3 linked regions of the Homo sapiens genome follow. The protein of the gene in region 2 interacts with the protein of the main gene of each other region in a pairwise test. Each region holds a gene or a part of one and is shown on either strand. Other genes may lie near its edges.

Region 1 (3,751 bases), on a different chromosome or scaffold from region 2:
TCTCTACTAAAATACAAAAAATTATCTGGGCATGGTGTCGTGTGCCTGTAATCCCAGCTACTCAGGAGGCTGAGGCAGGAGAATCACTTGGACCCTGGAGGCGGAGGTTGCAGTGAGCTGAGATCGCACCATTGCACTCTAGCCTGAGGACAGAGCAAGACACGTCTCAAAAAAAAAAAAAATACTATTTTATATAAGCCTTGAGTATCCACGGATTTTGTTTTGCAAGGGTCCTGGAACTAACCGCTTTGGGGTGCTATCAGCTTGACCACGTCAGAACCTTGTTCTGTTTTTCATAACATTTAAATATCAATACACAAAAAACTCAGCATCTTTATTTTCTCATGTAGTTTCTTATTTATTGTGATTTCTGTGATGTAGGGACCTACAAGTACTAAAATGTCAGAAATCAAGTTGCAGAATGAATTAGGAACAGCACCAGGACCAGACCATGGCTTTCTGGTACTACTGATGTGTTGCAATTTGCTCAGATAATACATCTTTAAAAAAGAGAAAATAAGGCTGGGCGTGGTGGCTCATGCCTGTAATCCCAGCACTTTGGGAGGCAGAGGTGGGTGGATCACCTGAGGTCAGGAGTTCAAGACCAGTCTGACCAACGTGGAGAAACTCCGTCTCCACTAAAAGTACAAAATTAGCGTGGTGTGGTGGCACGTGCCTGTAATCTTAGCTACTGAGGAGGCTGAGGCAGGAGAATTGCTTGAACCTGGGAGGCGGAGGTTGTGGTGAGCTGAGATCGCGCCATTGCACTCCAGCCTGGGCAACGAGCGAAACTCCATAAAAAAAAAAGAGAAAATGGCAGTACAAAATTAATATAGAAAAAATATTAAAATAGAAAAAAATCTTGAATTGCATGCTATTTAGTTTGTTTAGTTTGTATTTAAATACAAATGTATATTTAATTACACTTTTTGAATGACTTGATTTTAGTAAACTAATTTTATAGATTATGGGATATTTCCTAATCTGTGTTCTAAAAATGTTGATAGTATGATAACAAACAAGTAAAACTATCTTTAGGCCAGGCGCGGTGGCTCACGCCTGTAATCCCAGCACTTTGGGAGGCCGGGGAGGGTGGATCACCTGTGGTCGGGAGTTCTAGAACAGCCTGGCTAACATGGAGAAACTCCATCTCTACTGAAAAAATACAAAAATTAGCCAGCCATGGTGGCGGGCTCCTGTAATCCCAGCTACTTGGGAGGCTGAGGCAGGAGAATCACTTGAACCTGGGAGGTGGAGGTTGCAGTGAGCCGAGATCACGCCATCGCACTCCAGTGTGGGCAATAAGAGCAAAACTCCATCTCAAAAAAAAAAAACAAAAAACTATCTTTAGCCTGGGTGACAGAGCGAGACTCTGTCTCAAAAAAAATAAATAAAGGTGACAGCAGGCCAGGCATGGTGGCTCATGCCCGCAATTCCAGCACTTGGGTAGGCCAAGGTGGGCAAATCACTTGAGCCCAGAAGTTCCAGACAAACCTGGGCAACATGGCAAAATCCCTCTCTCTAAAAAACTATAAAAATTACCCAGGCATGGGCCAGGTGTGGTGGCTCACGCCTGCAATCCCAGCACTTTGGGAGGCTGAGGCGGGCGGATCACACGGTCAGGAGATCGAGATCATCCTTGCTGATACGGTGAAACCCCATCTCTACTAAAAACACAAAAAAAGGAGAATCACTTGAACCCATGAGGTGGAGGTTGCAGTGAGCTGAGATCGCGCCACTGCACTCCAAACTGGACGACAGAGCAAGACTCTGTCTCAAAAAAAAATACATATATATATGATATCATATATATGATATATATCATATATATATTTAGATTTTTTACTGTACAAACAACAGCATTACAACAGTAATGGTGAAACTTTACCTATAATTCTATTCCTAGTTTATTATTTCTTTTTATATTTTTTCTGCTGTATATGTATCATTTATTTCATAATTATAATTGTAAATAAATTTTTGTATCTTGCTTTATAATTAAGCATTATGCTATGAACATTTTTCTATGTGTTGCTACAGTCTTTCTGATTTCCTTTTTTTTTTAAATGAGACAGAGTTTTCCTCTTGTCGCCCAGGCTGGAGTGCAATGGCATGATCTCGGCCCACTGCAACCTCCGTCTCCTGGGTTCAAGCGATTCTCCTGCCTCAGCCTCCCTAGTAGCTGGGATTACAGGTGCCCGCCACCACCCCCAGCTCATTTTTGTATTTTTAGTAGAGATGGGGTTTCACTGTGTTGGCTAGGCTGGTCTCGAACTCCTGACGTTAGGTGATCTGCCCGCCTCTGCCTCCTAAAGTGCTGATTTCCGTTTTTTAATGAGTGTTTTAAGTTTCCTTGAGTCAATATACAAAATACATTTAACTATTTCCCTATTGTAGGAACTGCCAAGTTAGGCTCTTTTTTTTTTATTCAGTGGTTTTGTTGTTGTTGTTTTCTTTTGTTTTTGTTTAGGACGGGGTCTCGCTCTGTCGCCCAGGCTGGAGTGCAGTGTCACGATCTCGACTCACTGCAACCTCCGCCTCCCAGCCTCAAGCAATTCTCCTACCTCAGCCTCCTGAGTAGCTGGGACTACAGGCATGGAGCCACCATGCCTGGCTTTTTTTTTTTTTTTTTTGGTATTTTTAGTAGAGATGGGGTTTCTTGGCCAGGGTGGTCTCAAACTCCTGGCCTCAAGTGATCTGCCCGCTTCAGCCTCCCAAAGTGCTGAGATTACAGGCAAAAGCTGGCACACCTGGCCATAAAGTTAAGCTCATTTTAAATTTTTTAATGTTGCCATGAATGAACTTTCACACTGACTATCTTTGCAGATATTTTTATTTTACTTCTGAATTTTCTTTAGGACAAAATCTCAGAAATAATTGGGTCTAAAAGGTTGATTAAGCCAGGCGCAGTGGCTCATGCCTGTAATCGCAGCACTTTGGGAGGCCGAGGTGGGTGGATCACTTGAGGTCAGGAGTTCAAGACCAACCTGGCCAACATGATGAAACTCTCTCTCTACTAAAAATACAAAAATTAGCTGGGTGTGGTGGTGCACGCCTGTAGTCCTAGCTACTCAGGAGGCTGAGAATCATTGGAACCCGGGAGGAGGAGGTTGTAGTGAGCCGAGGTCATGCCACTGCATTCCAGCCTGGGTGACAGAGCGAGACTCTGTCTCAAAAAAGAAAAAAGTAAATTAAAAAATAAAAGATTGGTTATTACATTTTTGTAAAGCCACTTGAAGAACTATAAAATGCTATTTGTTTTCTTACAGTTAATTTTTTTTAAAAAACTTTAGCACCACCAAATCCAATTTTTTGGAGAAAGAAATTTCTTGGCCAGGTAAGGTGGCTCATGCCTGTAGTCCCAGCACTTTGGGAGGCTGAGGCAAGCGGATTGCTTGAGTCCAGGAATTCGAGACCAGCCAGGGCAACTTGGTGAAACCTTGTCTCTACAAAAACACAAAAAATAGCTGGGCCTGGTGATGAGTGCCTGTGGTCCCAGCTATTCAGGAGGCTGAGGCGGGGGAATCACTTGAGCTGGGGACATCAAGGCTGCAGTGAGCTGAGGACGTCAAGGCAGCATTGAGCTGAGATCATGCCACTGCACTCCAGCCTGGGTGTCAGAACTAGACCCTATCTCAAAAGAGAGGAAAAAAAAAAGAAATTTCTTCATTCGGACACTCAACTCAAATAGTTATTTTTGCTTTCGCGTGTAGTCTTCCTACACTTAAATACGAAATTGTAACCATAGTGT
Region 2 (3,751 bases):
ATATAAATGGCAGTATTCCATTGATGGCAAGGCCTCTTTCTCGGCCTTTAATTTGCGTCCAGGAGGCATAACCCAAAGTTCCCTTTCCCTTGTGCGTGGCTGAGGGCGAATGAAACTTGGGCCATTCTTCTTTCATCAATTAATTTCCTCTGCCAGTCCCAGCACTCCATTTTTCTTCTGTTGTGTTTCAGCAATGCGAACACATCGATCATGAAAAGTATTAGGCAATCTTCACAGATTGCACCAGAGAAACTTAACTTAAACAGCACGCTGCAAGTCAGTCCCTAGACTCAGCAGAGGGAAGCAGGGAGGCTTTGCACAGAGACATGGGGGCCTGCGTTCCGGGCTCATTTCCTGTTGTTCTCATTGTCATTGCCATTCTGATCAGCTGCTTCGGTTTTCACAGAGCTCCCCTCCCCCGGCTTGTTTTTATTCTGTGTTTCCTCCAGATACTGCTGGACAGCCTTGAGCACCGCGTTCTCCACCAGCCTCTTACTGAGCCTTACTAGTTCAGCGTCATCGGGCTCCCCTCCGTTCTTTTCACCTACATTCCACAATAGAGAAGAGAGGTCACTGAGATCACATTGCCATAGAAACTTGGCATGCAGGGGCCGGCTAGTTCCATTGGTTAAAAAGAGCAAGTGTAAATTGGATCTATAAATTCAAGAACAGTGGGTTGGCTTTTCATTTGGTATTTGCAGAAGCAGGAGCCTGTCTATTCCTGAAGGCTTCAGATTGAAAAGTAGTTCATTAGTCCCAATCTAGACAAGCTCTACCTACCAATGCCGGATGTTTCCCATTTATATGTGAATTTCTGTTCTTCTCTCATCCAAGGCTAATTACTACTACTAACGTCCATGTCCCCACCACGTGGAGTCTCAGACATGTGAATTCACTAAGTAGGCCTATGTCTGCTTCTCATTCTCGAATATCAAATATCAGGTCATCAAGATTTCCCTAGCATCTCATTACTTAAGATCACTAATTTAAAAATGCTTGGCCTATAGGTTGGTTGTTAATAAATGCTCAGTGCTGCCTTGAAGATAAAGGCAGTTACTACCACTAGGAATTGGTTTAAAGTAAGCTTGTAAGACTAATATTTTTTTTAATCCCAGTGCTATCACTGCAATTTAAGAAATAGGAAATTCTTTAAAGAAAAATTAGGATTATGATGATAAATTACTAGATGTAAATATTTTATGGTCATTTTACTTCCCTGGGAGTGATAATCCAGGTCTAATTATTCCATCTTTCATTTTATTCTAAAAGAGCTGGTTCCCAACTATTCTCATGCTACACATTTCCCAGTCACTCTCTTTCAGACTCCTTTAACTGGGAAAAGGAACTAAGGGGCTCCTTCCCCAGTTAAGGGAGACAAAGAAGAGAGTGACCATTCAGTGCTCAATCTCCTCCCATCGAGCTGGGGACCCAGGAAAGAACAAGGTTGGAAGCAAAGAAGTCACAGGATGCTCGCACATTAAGATCAGCTCAGTTTTGCAAGATTACCCATGGGTTCTAGAAGGCAAAGCCAGTGAGTGTTGCACTTGCATCTCTGGGTCTGAGACAGGCAGATACAAAGGGTGTGAGCTGGAAGATGGACACTGTTTCCTGTACTCACATGTAATAGGGATTGAAGAACAGAAGCAGGTATGCCAAGGGTGAGAACTGGCCCCCAACCTTGCTTCAGAGCCCCCTACTTGTATGTAACACCCATCAAGACTAATTGTGCTTATAACCATCCCCATCATTCCTAGCAACACCCTAAGCAGAAGAGAGGGTAGGATAAGACCCATCTAGAAACACTAATAGTGGGAACCCTTAGCAACTGCCTTCTCCTCAAATATGGGCAATATGGCACCCCAGACCCATGATCAGATGTCCAAGATAGAACATCTGCAGTGCAAAATATGTTTAGAATTGAGTAAATGTCAACTCAGTAATAACTAAATAGAACTTACTAAATAATACGGTTAAAGAAATTCATTGGTAATGTATTTACTATGAAAGTAAATTCATTGGTAATGTCATGTTGGGTGGCAAGTTAAGACTTTTTGTTTATCAGTAGGAATGAATGAATATATTGCCTAATATTTAGGGATTTTATCTCAACCTTACAACACGGTGTTTATACTCTACAGACAACATCTCCAAATGCATTAACTGGAACTGTTTGTATAATGACTCTTCCCATTTAAAAGGGAAAAATCCAACTGCAAATGAAGGAATACTTTTTAAGTACCCTCCAAAACACTGTAAATGACTGTCTACATCTGCCATCCTACTTGTGCTCTGTATCAAGGCCAGACATTGCACCCTGGGGGCTGTTCCTGAATCTAGTCAGCTTTCTCATCAGCAAGATGACAGGGTTGAATTTGAGTCCAATGAATGGCTCAACCTCCAAATCCCTTTTGGGTCTAATGTTCCATGCTTCTGTGATTTCTACTAGTCCACAGTGAAGTGTCCCTGTTATCTTAAACACAAGAATCTTCCTACAAAAAGCTAATTTTGGCCAGGCGCGGTGGCTCACGCCTGTAATCCCAACACTTTGGGAGGCTGAGGCAGGTGGATCACGAGGTCAAGAGATCGAGACCATCCTGGCCAACATGGTGAAACTCTGTCTCTACTAAAAATACAAAAATTAGCTGGGCGTGGTGGCATGCACCTGTAGCCCCAGCTACTCAGGGGGCTGAGGCAGGAGAATCACTTGAACTCAGGAGGCAGAGGTTGCAGTGAGCCGAGATCGTGCAACTGCACTCCGGCCTGGTGACAGAGTGAGACTGTCTCAAAAAAGAAGAAAAAAAAAGTGAATTTTCCCTGCTGATGTCCTATTTTTGTTTATGCTGTTACTATTATTCGAGGCAGTCAAGCTCAAAACGAGATTGTAGCCATCTTTGATGCCTTCCTTTCCCTCATTAACCCCCTTAATTACCAAGCTTTGTCAATTGTGCTTCATGATTTCTCCCGTCTTCAATGTGCCAGGTATAAAACCTTTAGTTATTATTTCTAATACATCTCTGTCACTATTTACTCTACAGAGAAACGTCTGTCTGCCAAGGCTTTCCAAAATTTGCCTTTCCTGGCTGCCTGCCCACCACTGCACACCTCCACTGTCAGCTTCCAACATCTCCTCAGAGGCTTCCACACCATTCCCAATTTCTAGACGACCCTCCCTCTCTTTCAGCAATTAGAATACCATCTACTCCATGAAACCTTTCCTGATTAGCTAATGTAGTGTGGATTTGTGTCCCCACCCAAATCTCCTGCGGAACTGTAATCCCCAATGCTGGAGGAAGGACCTGGTGGGAGGTAACTGGATCATGGAGGTGTGTTTCCCACTTGCTGTTCTCATGATAGTGAGTGAGTTCTCATGAGATCTGGTTGTTTGAAAATGTGTAGCACCTCCCCCATTTTCTCCCTTCCTCCTGCTCTGGCCGTGTAAGATATGCCTGCTTCCCCTTCACCTTCTGCCATGATTGTAAGTTTCCTGAGGCTTCCCCAGCCATGCTTCCTGTACAGCCTGTGGAACCATGAGCCAACTAAACCTCTTTTCTTTATAAATTACCCAGTTTCAGGTATTTCTTTACAGCAATGCAAGAACGGACTAATACCCTATACTAGCTGGAACTGATGAGCCTCCACTGGATTCTAATAACTCTCACTGCATGTATAGTACATGGCCATTTGGTCATTCATTCAACAATTGTGTACTGAGGATCTATAAGGATACAAAGCAGTGAGCAAAGCAACATCC
Region 3 (3,751 bases), on a different chromosome or scaffold from region 2:
TCTCTGTGCAGGATGGAATTTAGCATAAAGAATATAAATTACCTTTCCAAACTGGTATTCCACCTTTCAAATCAGTTTGTCTGTGCCGTTATTGCAGAACAGTTTCATATACCCCAGTGAATATCAGTTTATTTAAAGAGTGCAGAATTCTTTTTGCAGTACTTAAAATACTTTCAAATGGAAGGAATCAAAATTGAAAGGAAACCACAGATACTCATCTCAGGAATAACAGTCAGCTGCCAGGGATGCATAGGAACAGTATGCTGGAACGTGGCGAGGGTAGACTGTATGATCTTTTTTTCCCCCACTGATTTCTCCCGAGAAATGTATGCTCTTTTGCAGTTACCTTCCACGCTGTATGTCCGTGAGAAATACAATGAAGACGGTCTGAATAATGAACTGGTAATCTTCGATAATATGAAACGAATTTAAGAGAACATATCAAAGAGGTACATACTGTTTCAAAGAGCAAGAACTGTTATCTGAAACTCCCTGCCTCATAAAAGGCTTTCTGCAGAATGGAGATGGTCTTAAGCAAGTTTTACCATAAACAAATGCTTAGTTTCTTATTTTAAAAAATGACTAATTTTAGAAAGCTTACTCTCTCTTTTCTCTAGAAGGCTCTCAAAATAGGCTGCTGCAAAAGCTGGTATATTGTCCGGTTGCTCTCTCAGAATCTCGCGTGTCAGCCCTTCAAGAAGATTCCCAAATCCTTGTGGAATTCGGTAGTGGGTGTTGGAGAATGGAATCGACATCTTCTTGGTAAGAACTGCCTATGGAACCTAAAGATTCATTAAAGAGTACTGTCTTTAAATTTGTCTGATTTTACTTATATAATCACAACTATGCCAACAAATTATTTCTGAGACTCATACATCTGGACTTGAATTCTTTTTTCCCTAACACAACCCAAGCCCATCCATTTCTTCCAAAGAGTTTTGAAATCTCCATTGTGAATTAGTATAATACAAACACAGACCCATTCACTAGGCCAAATCATTTAAAATCCTGCAAAAAACCCATAATTTTCAATATGACTTTTTCTCTCTTTACCCTTTATATGCTCAAAAGGTAAGGGTAATTTTTGCTATCACACAGGAATTTAGAGAGAATGATTGCTAAAAAGTTAAATTCATTGTCAATTGCTGAGAAGACCTTCTTTGAGGTCTATTTTTTTTTAAAGAGTAGAAATTAGTCCTGGTTCTAGAAATTAATTTGTTGAATGAAGAAGTTGCACAATCTTTCCCCTTGCTGCCACTTCTGAAGCATGACCCACAATGCTTCGAACACCTTCGTACTGTGGAATGGGGTTGTGCGTGCGTGTGTGTGAGGGAGGGATGGGATGGGATGGGGCTGTGTGTCATGATTTTGAAATCCCAGCCTCTAAAGTTTTAGAATTCTTATATTTTTCGGTTTCTTCTTGATCAGGTTGTCTCTTTCTGTCTTGAAATACAAGGGCTAGATTAAGGGTAGCTGCTAAGCAGCGGGCTGAGCTACTACTGAGTATGAAAAGAATCCTCCGGGACCTGGCCTGTTAATGTGAGAGTGTGCGTCAATGCGGAATAGAGGCGGAGGCCGTGGTAGGGGTCCAGGTTGGGAGAACTGGACGGTTTAATGAGGCTCAGACTATGGAGGGTTCTCGTTTCATCGCTTTTTTTTTCTTTGAGAGGGGGTCTCTGGCCTCGAACTCCTGGGCTCCAGCGATGATCCCGCCTCAGCCTCCCGAGCAATTGGGATTACAGGCGCGCGCCACCACGCCTGACTCCTCTCTTTTGCTTTTTCTGAGGGAGCAGTAGATGGGGGTATCGAACCATTCTAGAGTGGTGAAAAGAGCTGGCGAGATTCTGAACCAATGTGGGCAGAGGAGGGCGGGCGGAGGGGGCAGACGGGTCTAGTCGGGGGCGGGATGTTGAGGACCTGGGATTTCAGACTCGCGCAGAATGGGCTGCCTCGGCTCCCAAACGGCCCAGGGCTCCGAGGCTGTGTCTGGGATGCTGAGAGAATAAGAGAGACGAAGGGAAAAGGCTAGGTCTTGGTATCGGAGAGGAAGTGGGGAAGCGGCCTCACCTCCTTTCTCTCCGAGCTGGTGCCGCCGGTTCCGGTTGTTTTTCTAGTTGCTGGGTAACCGTTTTTTCTTTAAAAAAAAAAAAAAACTACGGCGGCCGAGAAGGGGCGAGTACAGCCCAGTCCTGAGGTCGCGGGAGGCTGCGAGGACTGCAAAAGGGTGGAGTCGGCCTCGCCCCCGCCCAGGCCCCGCCCCTGCCGGGAACCCACTTTCCCAGTCCTAGGCGGCGGTCAGATCCTTGCAAGCATGGTCGCGCCGGGGCTTGTACTCGGGCTGGTGCTGCCATTAATCCTGTGGGCCGACAGAAGTGCAGGTGAGGCGGCCCGGCTCGGCCGGACCCCTGCCCCTCAGCCTGTGCGGGCTCCGAGACCCCGTGTCCTCTGCGGGACACGGATCCGCGCCCCTTTCTCAAGGTCGACGAAGGAACCTAGCTAGGCTAGGGGCTCGCGTCTCCGACCGAGGCCCGGTCTGCAGGAGTCTGCTGGGTTGAACCCCGGCCTCTCCACTTTCTCCACCCCCCACTTACCATCCCTGACATGCAGCCTGTGAGCAGGGAGAAAGTGCGGCTTGTCTGAGTGGGGAGGCCCAAATGTGCCCAGAAAGAGGCCTTCGGGGTCCTGGAGTAACTGCAGGGGAGCTCGGAGGGAAGGAGGCGAAGCTAGTTAGGTAATATTTGGAAACAGGTGACTGAATCTTCCAAAACATTTCAGCGCTACCCCCTCAGTGGTGCCCTTGGGGAGGGTTTGCTTCAGGCGGGGTTCCTTAGGGGAATTAAATTTTACTCGTTTAAGTGGTTATCAGGGCTAAGAAATACAACCCCCTCACTAGCTCTGACTATTTAAGGCTCAGTTTTGATTTCTGGTACCGCTTACAGATATTGGTGGTGGGAAAATGTGAGTGGCATAGGGGAGGCTGGTGGCTCCCTTTGGCTGTTGCGCAGGTCAGATCTTGCCATTCGAATACCCTAGGCTGGACACTGGGTCACAGTATGGAGAAAGCAGAAGGTGCAATCTGTCTGATAATGCAAACTAAAGTGATAATGTTGGATTTCTTCCTTTCTGTTTCAAAACACTCAAAGAGTGGACCCCAGAGATCCCTGTTAAGAAATGATAGTTGGGGTAGGAGAACAGCGTGCAGAAAAATGACTCCTGCTCTACCTGAGAGCCGGAAAAGTACCTAGATTCAGACAAACTGCAGCCCATAAATGATTGTTCAGAGTCTAACAAAAGTGCAAAATGCTAGCACTCTGTATGCCATTTCCTGACTCTTATCTCCACTCAGTGACCTTTGAGATCCATCTTATGAGGTGGGGAAAAGATATTTTATTAGGTTTTCAGTTAAAGGCTGTTTATTTTAGTGTCAGTATTTTATCTCCTCCTTTGGGTCTTATTGTTACATCACCTTCATTAACATTGATCACATTTTTCATTCATTAGTACTCTACTTGGTTGCGTATCCTGACGTTTTTCCTTTAAGTCATTCTCCCTGTGCCCATGTTTACCATGTAATGCTTGAGATGTACAAAATTATATGTAACAATGACACAATAAAATGAACACCCATGAGAGCAGTACCCAACTTAAGAACTAGAACATTGCCAGTCTATTGAGCCTGCCATTGTGCTCCTCGCCAATGCATCCGGAGCTCCTCACCAGAGGCAACCACTGCCCTCTCTTCCCCATAACA

Evidence for each region.
Region 1: the proteins of AKAP7 (region 2) and CEP76 interact in a two-hybrid assay, tested with the Homo sapiens proteins (3 studies listed by BioGRID).
Region 3: the proteins of AKAP7 (region 2) and SPA17 interact in a two-hybrid assay, tested with the Homo sapiens proteins (3 studies listed by BioGRID and IntAct).

What each region holds. Positions count from the first base shown.
Region 1 is NC_000018.10:12,682,069-12,685,819, reverse strand, and holds part of CEP76 (centrosomal protein of 76 kDa), read left to right. Parts: intron 1-3,751. UniProt on the Homo sapiens protein: Centrosomal protein involved in regulation of centriole duplication. Required to limit centriole duplication to once per cell cycle by preventing centriole reduplication.
Region 2 is NC_000006.12:131,278,323-131,282,073, reverse strand, and holds part of AKAP7 (A-kinase anchoring protein 7), read right to left. Parts: intron 545-3,751; coding exon 348-544; 3' UTR 1-347. UniProt on the Homo sapiens protein: Probably targets cAMP-dependent protein kinase (PKA) to the cellular membrane or cytoskeletal structures.
Region 3 is NC_000011.10:124,672,269-124,676,019, reverse strand, and holds the start of SPA17 (sperm surface protein Sp17), read right to left. Parts: upstream 2,117-3,751; 5' UTR 2,068-2,116; exon of another isoform or gene 1,918-2,067; intron 1,827-1,917; exon of another isoform or gene 1,527-1,826; intron 783-1,526; 5' UTR 756-782; coding exon 602-755; intron 596-601; exon of another isoform or gene 458-595; intron 450-457; exon of another isoform or gene 1-449. Other genes in the region: SIAE (sialate O-acetylesterase isoform 1 precursor), read left to right, coding at 2,312-2,378. UniProt on the Homo sapiens protein: Sperm surface zona pellucida binding protein. Helps to bind spermatozoa to the zona pellucida with high affinity. Might function in binding zona pellucida and carbohydrates.